3 linked regions of the Homo sapiens genome follow. The protein of the gene in region 1 purifies or fractionates together with the protein of each later gene. This does not show direct contact. Each region holds a gene or a part of one and is shown in the gene's direction. Other genes may lie near its edges. The genes, in order: ME1, TBCD and PPWD1.

What was found.
Region 2: the proteins of ME1 (region 1) and TBCD fractionate together in Homo sapiens (co-fractionation; one large-scale study listed by BioGRID). This does not show direct contact.
Region 3: the proteins of ME1 (region 1) and PPWD1 fractionate together in Homo sapiens (co-fractionation; one large-scale study listed by BioGRID). This does not show direct contact.

The regions. Positions count from the first base shown.
Region 1 is NC_000006.12:83,228,472-83,232,125, reverse strand, and holds part of ME1 (NADP-dependent malic enzyme), read left to right. Parts: intron 1-3,194; coding exon 3,195-3,300; intron 3,301-3,654. UniProt on the Homo sapiens protein: Catalyzes the oxidative decarboxylation of (S)-malate in the presence of NADP(+) and divalent metal ions, and decarboxylation of oxaloacetate.
Region 2 is NC_000017.11:82,755,002-82,758,655, forward strand, and holds part of TBCD (tubulin-specific chaperone D), read left to right. Parts: intron 1-245; exon of another isoform or gene 246-315; intron 316-1,163; coding exon 1,164-1,214; intron 1,215-3,654.
Region 3 is NC_000005.10:65,573,295-65,576,948, forward strand, and holds part of PPWD1 (peptidylprolyl isomerase domain and WD repeat-containing protein 1), read left to right. Parts: intron 1-3,584; coding exon 3,585-3,654. UniProt on the Homo sapiens protein: PPIase that catalyzes the cis-trans isomerization of proline imidic peptide bonds in oligopeptides and may therefore assist protein folding. May be involved in pre-mRNA splicing.

The DNA.
Region 1 (3,654 bases):
ATATTTATCACTGGTAATCTAGAATTAATTTACTTATTCCTATCCTGGGCTGTGGAATAATAGCCCAAAATCTTGGCAGCCTTTGCCCCCATTCTCCTCCCTATGCCCACTATAAACATGTGCTTTTGAAAAGGTAGTAATTAAATCTGGTTATATCTTCTACGATATAGTAAGAATCATCACAATATAAAGGGATAGGGGAGATTAAAGTAATAATATCACAAATAAAGTTTCAGCTATCCATAATATGTTTGAGGTAATTAGAGACTCTTGAAAAAAACAGAGAGAGAAAAGATGCATCATAGAATTTGGGATTTCTGAGGTGAGAGGTGCCCACATGCACTTTGCCAAAAGAAGGCAAAAGGATTTCAGCAAGGGATCCTGAAAAGGGAGAATGAAGGGAAAAGACATCTACTCATCTCCATACCAACTGAAGTTATTGGCATAACGAATATGTATTCCAAATCAGATTTTGAAAAATAAAGAAAAATAAGCCATTAGTCTAGAAAATAGAAGTCCAAAGGTACAGGTAGTTGCCTCAGTATTACCGGATTTAGAAAAGGTTGTCACATTCCAGTAGTTTCTTTAAACTAGGTCATCAAGTCAATTTTGAAAATGGTAGAGAACATACTTGGGAGACATTTTGTGTGTGTGTCTTTTGCTTCTTCTGTTTTGTCAAGTAAGACCTTCAGTATTGCTAGTATTACCATTTCGTGATTCCTGGACTTTTTTCAGCATTCTTTCAGCACTTGTAAGTCATACCAGGAATCAAGCCTTTGAAAGTGTTGCCATGGGTAATTTATGCTTCTTACTAGATGGAATGTCTTCTGGCTAAGTTCTGGCTTCAGTGTCTAGGAGCTGCCAGTGGGTATACTATGATTAATAAAGATGTTTATGATTAAGTATATATCTTTTTCTTTTCATACATTATTCATCTGTCTTTTTTATTATTTGTTTCCCATTCTAGGCAATTTAAATATTTTTCATTATATCTCAGCTTGACAGCCAAAAAAGCTGTGACTTCCAATTTATCTTATTCTATAGCTTTTCTTCTTTAGACTCATTATTGTATACTTTTTTGAAAACATAGCACATAACCTCTTAAAAACGCATGTGGTAGGGATATGATAGATCATTTAGTACACTGATTCTCAAAACTGGCTAATCATTTCTTTTTTTTATTTTTTATTTTTTTGAGACAGAGTCTCGCTGTCGCCCAGGCTGGAGTGCAGTGGTGTGATCTTGGCTTACTGCAAGCTCTGCCTCCTGGGTTTATGCCATTCTCCTGCCTCAGCCTCCTGAGTAGCTGGGACTACAGGCTCCTGCCACCACGCCCAGCTAATTTTTTGTATATTTTTAGTAGAGACGGGGTTTCACCGTGTTAACCAGGATGGTCTCGATCTCCTGACCTCGTGATCCGCCCGCCTCAGCCTCCCAAAGTGCTGGGATTACAGGCATGAGCCACTGCGCCTGGCCTACAGCAGATTATTAATAGGAGAAAATATACCAAAACTTTAAGTGCTGGAATTATGATTTTTTTCTTCTTCACAAAAATTTTAATTGCAACAACAACTAGCATAGAGCTCTTACTATAAACCAGGTACAGTCCTGAGTGTTTTACATGCATTACATTTCATTTACCCCACAAACAACCTGATGAGGTAGAAGTCCTTATTATCCTTATTTACAGATGAGGAGACAAGCACAAAGAGGTTCATATGTTTCAAATTTTTTAATAATTCAGTATATTGCTTTTAAAAACAGAGCCTGTCTCTACTAAAAATATAAAATTAGCCGGGCACATGCCTGTAATCCCAGCTACTTGGAAGGCTGAGGCAGGAGAATAGCTTTAACCCGGGAGGCGGAGGTTGCGGTGAGCCGAGATCGCGCCACTGCACTCCAGCCTGGGCAACATGAGCAAAAACTCTGTCTCAAAAAAAAAAGACAAACAAAACAAAATTAAAAACAACAACAACAACAACAACAACAAAAAAAAACAGAGCCTGGCATGGTGGCTCACGCCTATAATCCTAGTGACTCAGGAGGCTGAAGCGAAAAGATCACTCCTGAGGCCAGAAGTTCGAGACAACCCTGGGCAATATAGCGAGACCCCCATCTCTAAAAAAAAATGATAAATTAGCCAAGCATGGTGGTGCATGCCTGTAGTTCCAGCTACTAGAGAGGCTTAGGTGGGAGGATCCCTTGACCCCAGGAGTTCAAGGCTGCAGTGACCTCTGATCCACAGCACTCCAACTTGCATGACAAAATGAGACCTCATTTCAAACAAACAAAAGCAACAGAAATAAAATGATAATACCCTTTAAAGAAAGAAAATTGTACTATCTTCATTATTAACAATTTGCAAAGACTATGACATACTATTTGTTAAGTTTTTGCCCGGGGTGATTCTGTGCTATATTGAAAAGGCTTTGAGTTCTAGTACAATCTCTTGCCTTGAGCAAGTCCCTTAAAACCTCTGAACATGTTTCCGCATATGTAAAATGACTATACTTATACTTGTCCTGCTTCTCAGAATTGTTGAGGGGATCAAATGAAATATGTGAAAACAACTTGTAAGTCATCAAGTACCATATAAAATTAGGCAGTGATCCATTATGTAGTCAAATCTTTAAAATTTGCAGCTAGAATATTATAATTAGATGTTTACTAGATAACACATGGCGCATTCATAATCAGAACATTAAAAACAAAAACATATAAAATGCATACTTACTGAGAAAATCTAACAATGACATAAATATGACTTCAAATTCTTTTCTTAGTCAGTAGCATAAATTGGTAGGGCTAAAGCTGAAGCCAACTCCAAATTCTGAGACCTGCTATAAAACACAATGTGTGACGAACAATATAATTATTTAAATTATATTTTGCATGGCCATTTGTTAATGCTAGTTCTCACATGTCTGTAAAATTAGGATTTTTAATATCAATTAAATGAAGGACTTTGTTTTGTTCACTGTTACATCTCCATTGCCTAGAACATTGACATATAAATATTTGTTAAACGAATGAATGAAATAACATTCTGACAATTGAAGAAGAGATTTTAAGAATAGCTGTAACACATCATACATAAAAATGTTAAGCATAAATATTTGTAATATATGTACCGAAATTTATTGACCCTCACATGTTTGGCAGATTCTTAATTTTTTCTTACTGGCTTTACTTAGGGACGTGCTTCCTTAACACAAGAGAAAGAGAAGTTTGCCCATGAACATGAAGAAATGAAGAACCTAGAAGCCATTGTTCAAGAAATAAAACCAACTGCCCTCATAGGTAAGCATTTTCTCCTCTCCCTTCTCCCCTACCCCTTATTTTGACCTGATTGTTTTTTTTACTACCAATTTTTGAGGTATAATTTAGCCTTTTTGAATTCAAAAAACTACACGTTCGCTCAAGCGACAGTACCCTGTAGAGACCTAGATTTTTAACTTTAGTCCTGTCGTCTTTCTCTTACTGATCTGAGATGAAGCGTATGGCCCCCTCCTCTAACTCAGCCTGTTAATACCTGGCACGTTCAGCACTTTTCTAGGCTTGATTACTCCAGATAGACAGTGGTTCTCAAATAAGAGGGATTTTTGCCCTGCAGGAAACATTTGGCAATGTCTGGAAGCTTTGAGTTGTCTTAAC
Region 2 (3,654 bases), on another chromosome or scaffold:
AAGTCGGGCTACAGCTTAGTTTTACACGTTTTAGGGAGACGTGAGACATCAATCAATACCTGTAAGATGTACATTGGTCTCGTCAGGGAAGGCGGGACATCTTGGGTGGGAGGGCGTCCAGGGCATTGGTGGATTCAAATATTTCACGATTGGTGATTGGTTGAAAGAGTTTATCTGAAGACCTGGAATCCATAGAAGGGATTGTCTAGGTTAAGATAAATTGTGGAGACCAAGGTTTTTCTTATGCAGATGAAGGTTCCAGTTAGCTGGTTTCAGAGAGAATAGATTGTAAATGCTTTTCATCAGACTAAAAAGGTACCAGACTTAGTTAATTTTCTCTTGGATCAGGGAAAAGACCTAGAAAAGGAAGGGATTCTCTACAGAATGTAGCTTTTCCCAGCAAGAGACAACTTAGCAGAACCATTTCAAAATATGTCAAATATATTTTAGGGAAAAATATTTTGATTTCTTTCAGGGCCTGCTGTCTGTCATGTGATGCTGTACTAGAGTCAGGCTGGAATTTGGTGTCTTATTGCTACTTAAGATCGGTTTTAATGCTAATACTGATCAGCTGTGCCTGAATTCCAACGAGAGGAGGGTATAATGAGGCCTATGTGGACCACTCCCCACAATCCCTTAATATCATGAGGCCTGAACTAGTTTTTCAGGTTAAGTTTGGAATGCCCTTGGCCAAGAGGAGGGGTCTGTTAGATGGCTAGGGGGCTTAGAATTTTGTTTTTAGTTTACAGGCATGTTTGGCAGGGGAGTGTGAGAGGAGTGCCAGGGATGTGTGTCTCACAAGGACAGAGTTGAGCTTGGCCCTTAACGGCTGGCAGAGGCAGGAGAGAGTGAAGGAAGGAAGAGGCGAGGAGGAGACTCTGTTAGGAAGAGTATCGAGGCAGTGGGAAAAGAGGAACAGTGTGCCAAGCAAGTAAACTGCACGAGGCTGGGCCACAGTGGCCCTCAAAAGGCTAGAGGGAGGTGGGGCATTCCCTCCAGGTGGCCTGTGTGGCCTCCTTTAGTGAGAGGGGAGGTGTGCTCTTGAGAGCTGGGGAAGAGGTGGAGCTGCCCTGTGGAAGCTAGCAAGGGAAAATGGGGTTTCTGAGGCTCATGGGTATGTTTGGCCTAGTGATAATTAATTTTCATGTTATATTTGTTTTTAGTAATAATGGACAAATACCAGGAGCAGCCTCATCTGTTGGACCCGCACCTTGGTAAGAATAGAAGCTGCTGATTTTGATCATTCAGTTACAGATGACCACGGAGGCCTTGGTGTGTGGTGCTGGCACATGCATGTGCTTTGCCAGGATCAAATGCCAAGAAGTGTCCCTGTCTTGCTTGCCTGGCTGGTTGGTTTTAGCCGACCTGTGATAGTGGCTTGAGTTCCAGATGTCACTCTAGGCTGGGGGGAGATGTGTCTGAGCTACTTAATTCCTTTCTGCTAAGGAAACAACATCTGCTCCTCATGTGTTTTTTTTGTTTTTTTTTCTTTTTTTTGAGACGGAGTCTCGCTCTGTCTCCAGGCTAGAGTGCTGTGGCGCGATCTCAGCTCACTGCATCCTCCAGCTCCCTGGTTCAAGGGATTCTCCTGCCTCTGCCTCCCGAGTAGCTGGGATTACAGGCATGCGCCACCATGCCCAGCTAATTTTTGTATTTTTAGTAGAGACGGGGTTTCACTATGTTGGCCAGGATGGTCTTGATCTCCTGACCTCGTGATCCGCCTGCCTCGGCCTCCCAAAGTGCTGGGATTACAGGCGTGAGCCACCGCGCCTGGCCTCCTCAAGTGTTTTTAGTTTACATTAGTTTATTATTTTAGTTTACATTTGGGCACATGATGTTTTTCTGGTAATAGTCATACAGGGTCAGGTGTTTTACATGGGTCATCATTTAATCCTCACAGCAGCTAAGGAGGGCATCTGTTGTCATCTCCAGTTTACAGATGGGGACACTGAGGCTCGGTTTTCTTACTTTAGTGTAAGGGGTGTGGTTTCTTATTGTTTTCTTTATTTTTGATGTATTTCACACTGATTAAAATTTTTCTTTTTCTACCTACAAATGTGACACATGCTTCTGGCAGTTCACCTGGGAAAGAGGAAGGTGGCAATAGTCACCACGTTGAGAGGGAGCACCCTGGGTGGGGGCACCCTGGCTTCATAGCCCAGTTTCACCATTCAGTTTTTGAGCTGCTCTTTGCCGGGGTTTCCTCGCCCCCCGTGGTGTTGAGATCTGTGTGAGAGACACTAAGGGTCAGCCTTTCATGTGCGCACACGTGCCTCTTAAAGAGTAGTTTGTGCTGTGCATCTTGTTCTGTTTTTTTTTCTTCAAATAACAGATTTTGGCTGGGGGTGGTGGCTCATGCCTGTAATCCCAGCACTTTGGGAGGTGGAGGCGGGTGGATCACTTGAGGTCGGGAGTTCGAGACCAGCATGGCTAACACGATGAAACCCTGTCTCTACTAATAATACAAAACGTTAGCTGGGCATGCTGGCAGTTGCCTGTAGTCCCAGTTACTTGGGAGGCTGAGGCAGGAGAATGGCGTGAACCCGGGAGGCGGAGCTTGCAGTGAGCTGAGATCACGTCACTGCACTCCAGCCTGGGTGACAGAGTGAGACTTCATCTCAAAAAAAAAAAAAAACCAAAAAAAACCCTCTAAATTCGGGATTCAAGAATTCATTGGGATCAGACTTGTCCTTCTGTCCTAGAAAAATTTATAGGCCTTGTGAAGGAGACCAAAGATAGAGGTCCTTGGGAGAGGGTCAGCTGCAGGGAACATGACTCTGACATCTGGTGGAGGGGCTAGCCATGCTGGATGGCGTGGCAGGCAGTGGGCTCCCCAGGCCATATCTTATAGGAGGTCTTGGGTTCCTGGAGTTCCTGTGTGTGAGCGCTGGTTCCCAGGAAACAGATGTGGTCACTGCTCACAAGGTAGCGGGTGGTGTTTTTATATCTCTTCAAGTAACAACGTTGGACCTGTAGTTAAATGCCTTTATTCTTGCCAGACCTCTTTCCAGAGTGGATCATGGAATATTAACACTTGTTGTGAGCTGCTTAGAGTACTGCGAATGATTTTTAGAGTTATTTTCTTTCTTTGCAAAAACTGTTTTTCGCCGGGTGTGGTGGCTTATGCCTGTAATCCCAGCACTTTGGGAGGCCGGGGCGGGTGGATCACCTGAGGTCAGGAGTTTGAGACCAGCCTGACCAACATAGTGAAACCCCGTATCTACTAAAAATGCAAAAATTAGCCGCGTGTGGTGCACGCCTGTAATCCCAGCTACTTGGGGCTGAAGCAGGAGAATTGCCCGAACCCAGGAGGCAGAGGTTGCAGTGAGCCAAGATCGTGCCATTGTACTCCAGCCTGGGCAACAAGAACGAAAACGTCTCGGAAAAAAAAAAAAAAAAAAATAAATAAATAAATAAATTTTTTTTTTTGTAGAGAAGGGGTCTTGCCGTGTTGCCCAGGCTGGTCTCATACCTCTGGGTTCAAGCGGTTCACCCACCTTGGCCTCCTAAAGTGCTGGGATTTCAGGTGTGAGCCAGCGTGCCCAGCTGAGTTCATTATTTTCTGGAATTCCTTTTTAGAAAAAGGAAAATGTAGTCGTGGGATGCTGGTCCTTTGTCATTTGTTGCACATTTTTCCACCCTTTTGCTTTTTTT
Region 3 (3,654 bases), on another chromosome or scaffold:
ATTATTTATTTATTTAATTAATTTATTTTCTGAGACAGAGTTGCACTTGAGTGCAGTGGCATGATCCAGCTCACTGCAACCTCCGCCCCCTGGGTTCAAGCGATTCTCCTGTCTCAGCTTCCCAAGTAGCTGGGACTATAGGCGTGTGCCACCACACTTAGCTAATATATATATATATATATTTTTTTTTTATTAGAGATGGGTTTTTTTTAGTACAGATGGTTTTTTTTTTTTTTTTTTTTTTTTTTTTTTTTTTTTTAAGTACAGACGGGTTTCACCGTGTTAGCCAGGCTGGTCTTGAACTCCTGGCCTCAAGTGATCTGCCTGCCTTGGCGTCCCAAAGTGCTGGGATTACAGGTGTGAGGCACGGTGCCAAGCCAGCAGAGTTTTTTTTAATGTGACTGTAGATCACTGTTTCTTTTAGAGCATTTGATATGGTCATATTATTTGATTAATGTGTATCACCTCCAGTAGACTAAGCCCTATGTGATCTGTTTTAACTTATGATTCTATCTCCAGCAGTGAGAACAGTACCTCACACAAGAGTTACTCAAATATTTTGAAAGAGTGACTCTAGCCATCACTTGTTAGACTGCTAACAAGAATTTGTTACAGCATGTAGTCGTGGAATAAGAGTTTTTAATCCATGCAGTTAAGCGGTTTCTGTGATTGCAACTATTGCCATCAAGTGGTTCTCTGAATCCTCTGAGTCTGGATTGAACCTTTGTAGCAAAGTTTATTGTATGACAGTGTCAGTTCTTTTGTCCTTGGCAGTGACCAATTTGCATTGGATTCCCTGCTGTAAGCTCTTCATAAATTCTGTCAACTCTTTCTAGTGGCGATCTTGATTTGGTGGCACGTGGTAATAAATGAGTTGGTTGTCTGTCTGTCTGAAGTAATATATTTCCAGACAAATGTGAAGATCTGTTTGCCAGCCAAATTATCCTTATGACAAATTTTCTTGTTGGAAGAAGATAGCTTTCCACTCTGCTTTTAAGGAGAAACATTTATCGGTAATACTTTCTTTAATGGTGGCAGATAACTAAATATGACTTGCAATTTAAATATAATTTTAAAATTCTATTAACTTGCAGCTCTTCCAAGATCCCTTAGGCAAAGAAATATTCAGAATCTAGTCTCTGGACACAAATCTCTTTTTTTTTTTTTTTTTTTTTTTTTTGAGACGGAGTCTCGCCCTGTTGCCCAGGCCGGACTGCGGACTGTAGTGGCTCAATCGCGGCTCACTGCAAGCTCCGCTTCCCGGGTTCACGCCATTCTCCTGCCTCAGCCTCCCGAGTAGCTGGGACTACAGGCGCCCGCCACTGCGCCCGGCTAATTTTTTGTATTTTTAGTAGAGACGGGGTTTCACCTTGTTAGCCAGGATGGTCTCGATCTCCTGACCTCATGATCCACCCGCCTCGGCCTCCCAAAGTGCTGGGATTACAGGCGTGAGCCACCGCGCCCGGCCGGCACAAATCTCTTAACACACATACTCTGAGCTGCTCAATCCACTCTATTTGCTCATTGTTGTCTTCAACATTTGCTTAAATGATTAGCCTGAGGTGACAAGAAGTCAGTAGTAGAACTTAAGACAGAAGTGGAGATTCAGAATGAGAGTTTGCCAAAAAAGCCAACCATCAGTTAAATTACTTACAGTGCTAGTGACTAGTAAATGACTGGAATCTCAAGGAGGTGGTAGTGGAGGAGGGTAGTTTCTAACCAGTCGGAATCCTAGTTTAACAGAAAAGAAATTGAATGGGATGGTGTAAATTATCTTTTAGTATTTATTAACCAGGGTCACTATATATGGCTGTGCAGTTGAATATCACAGAAGCCCTGCTATGAAGTCTAGAGCACTCTGAAAAAGATTCTGATCAGGTACTTACCAGGTTGGATAACATTTATGGAATACTTATATAGGGACAGATGACCACCTACAGACCTTATGCCTTAAAAACTGAGTCTTCTCTCCGGCAGAAATGATCATTAGCCCTTCCCTGCAAAATGTGTAGTCCAGCATCCTAGGCTATTCCTGGCACATGAATAAGCAGCGTAATATGTATCAGTCTCCCTGTCTTTGAGACTAGAGACAAGAAAACCTAACAACTAGGCTTTTTAACTGTTCTGTAAGACCTTGACCTTGTGCTTATACCCTAACACACATACCTCATTTTGATTTTTTGAGTTTTGTATATAGTTCTAACCTTATCTAGAAAACACAAGATTATGGTTAATATAAGCATGAAATAAGGATAGAATTAGATGGGACAGAAGTCTGGCTTATTTTCATCTGCAATGGAGAGCTATTTTTGAATGCTACTGTTTGATGCCCTGATTGTGTAGAAAAGAATGTAAAGATCGTTACTCTTTTGGAAGGTTCATAATATGTTAATACAGTTATTGAGATGTGATGCCTATCTTGAAATTTGTGTAATATCAAAAGAAAAGTAAACCAAATTTCCAAACTATAAAGGACACTTATAGAAATAGTCATGTCTACTAAATAACATGTACCTAATGGTAATCTCACTGCCCTGTGTCAGAATAACTTGAGACATTTTCTGAAATATTATGAATTTGTTATAAATTAGTGAGATGAATTCATTCAGCAAAAATTGAGTGCTTGTTATGTCAGGCACGTAACCTTGCTCAAGGACCTCATAGTCTATAGCTGCATTATCCAGTATAAACAGTCACTAGCCACGTGTCTACTGAGCATTTGATAGATGGCTAGTCCAAACTGAGATATGCTGAAAGTGTAAAATACAAGATTTCAAAGACTTAATTTTTTTTAAAAGAATGTAAGTTATCTCAATTTTTTATATTGTTGAGATGATATTCTGGATATTTTGAGTTTAATCAAACATTAAAATGAAATTCACCTGTTTTCTTTATACTTTGTTTAATGTTACTAGACACTTTAAAATTACCTATGTGGCTTGTGTTATATTTCATTGGAAAGTGCTACTCTGTGACTTTTAAAAGGCAGCAGATGTATTCTGTAGAGAAAGCAGTAGTTCTATTAACCAACCGGGTTTTGTTTTAAATTAGAAGAACCAGTTACCATTTTGAAATACAATTTTTTTTTTTTTTTTTTTTTGAGACGGAGTCTCACTCTGTCCCCCAGGCCAGAGTGCAGTGGCGCAATTTCGGCTCACTGCAGCGTCTGCCTCCTAGGTTCAAGCGATTCTCTTGCCCCAGCCTCCCGAGTAGCTGGGATTACAGGCACACATCACCATGCCCGGCTAAGTTTTTATGTTTTTAGTGGAGACGGGGTTTCACCATGTTGGCCAGGCTGTTCTTGAACTGATGTCAGGTGATCCACCTGCCTTGGCCTCCCAAAATGCTGGGATTAGAGGCATAAGCCACCATGCCCAGCCTGAAATACTATTTTTTAGTGATTGGACTTACTAATGTCTATTTCATATTGTTTAGAATCCCTCTTAAGAAGTACAAACAGTTAGTGGCTCTTAATATGTATTCTGCTTCTATTTAAATTCTCATTGCATATATAGATAGATGGGTTGATATAGATATAGGTATATGTATATAGAGTTTTTGTTACTAAATGGTTTATTTCCTAGATGTTTACTGAACTGCAACAGATGAGGCAACAGTTACCAGACATGGAATTTGGCCGACGAATGGCTGTAG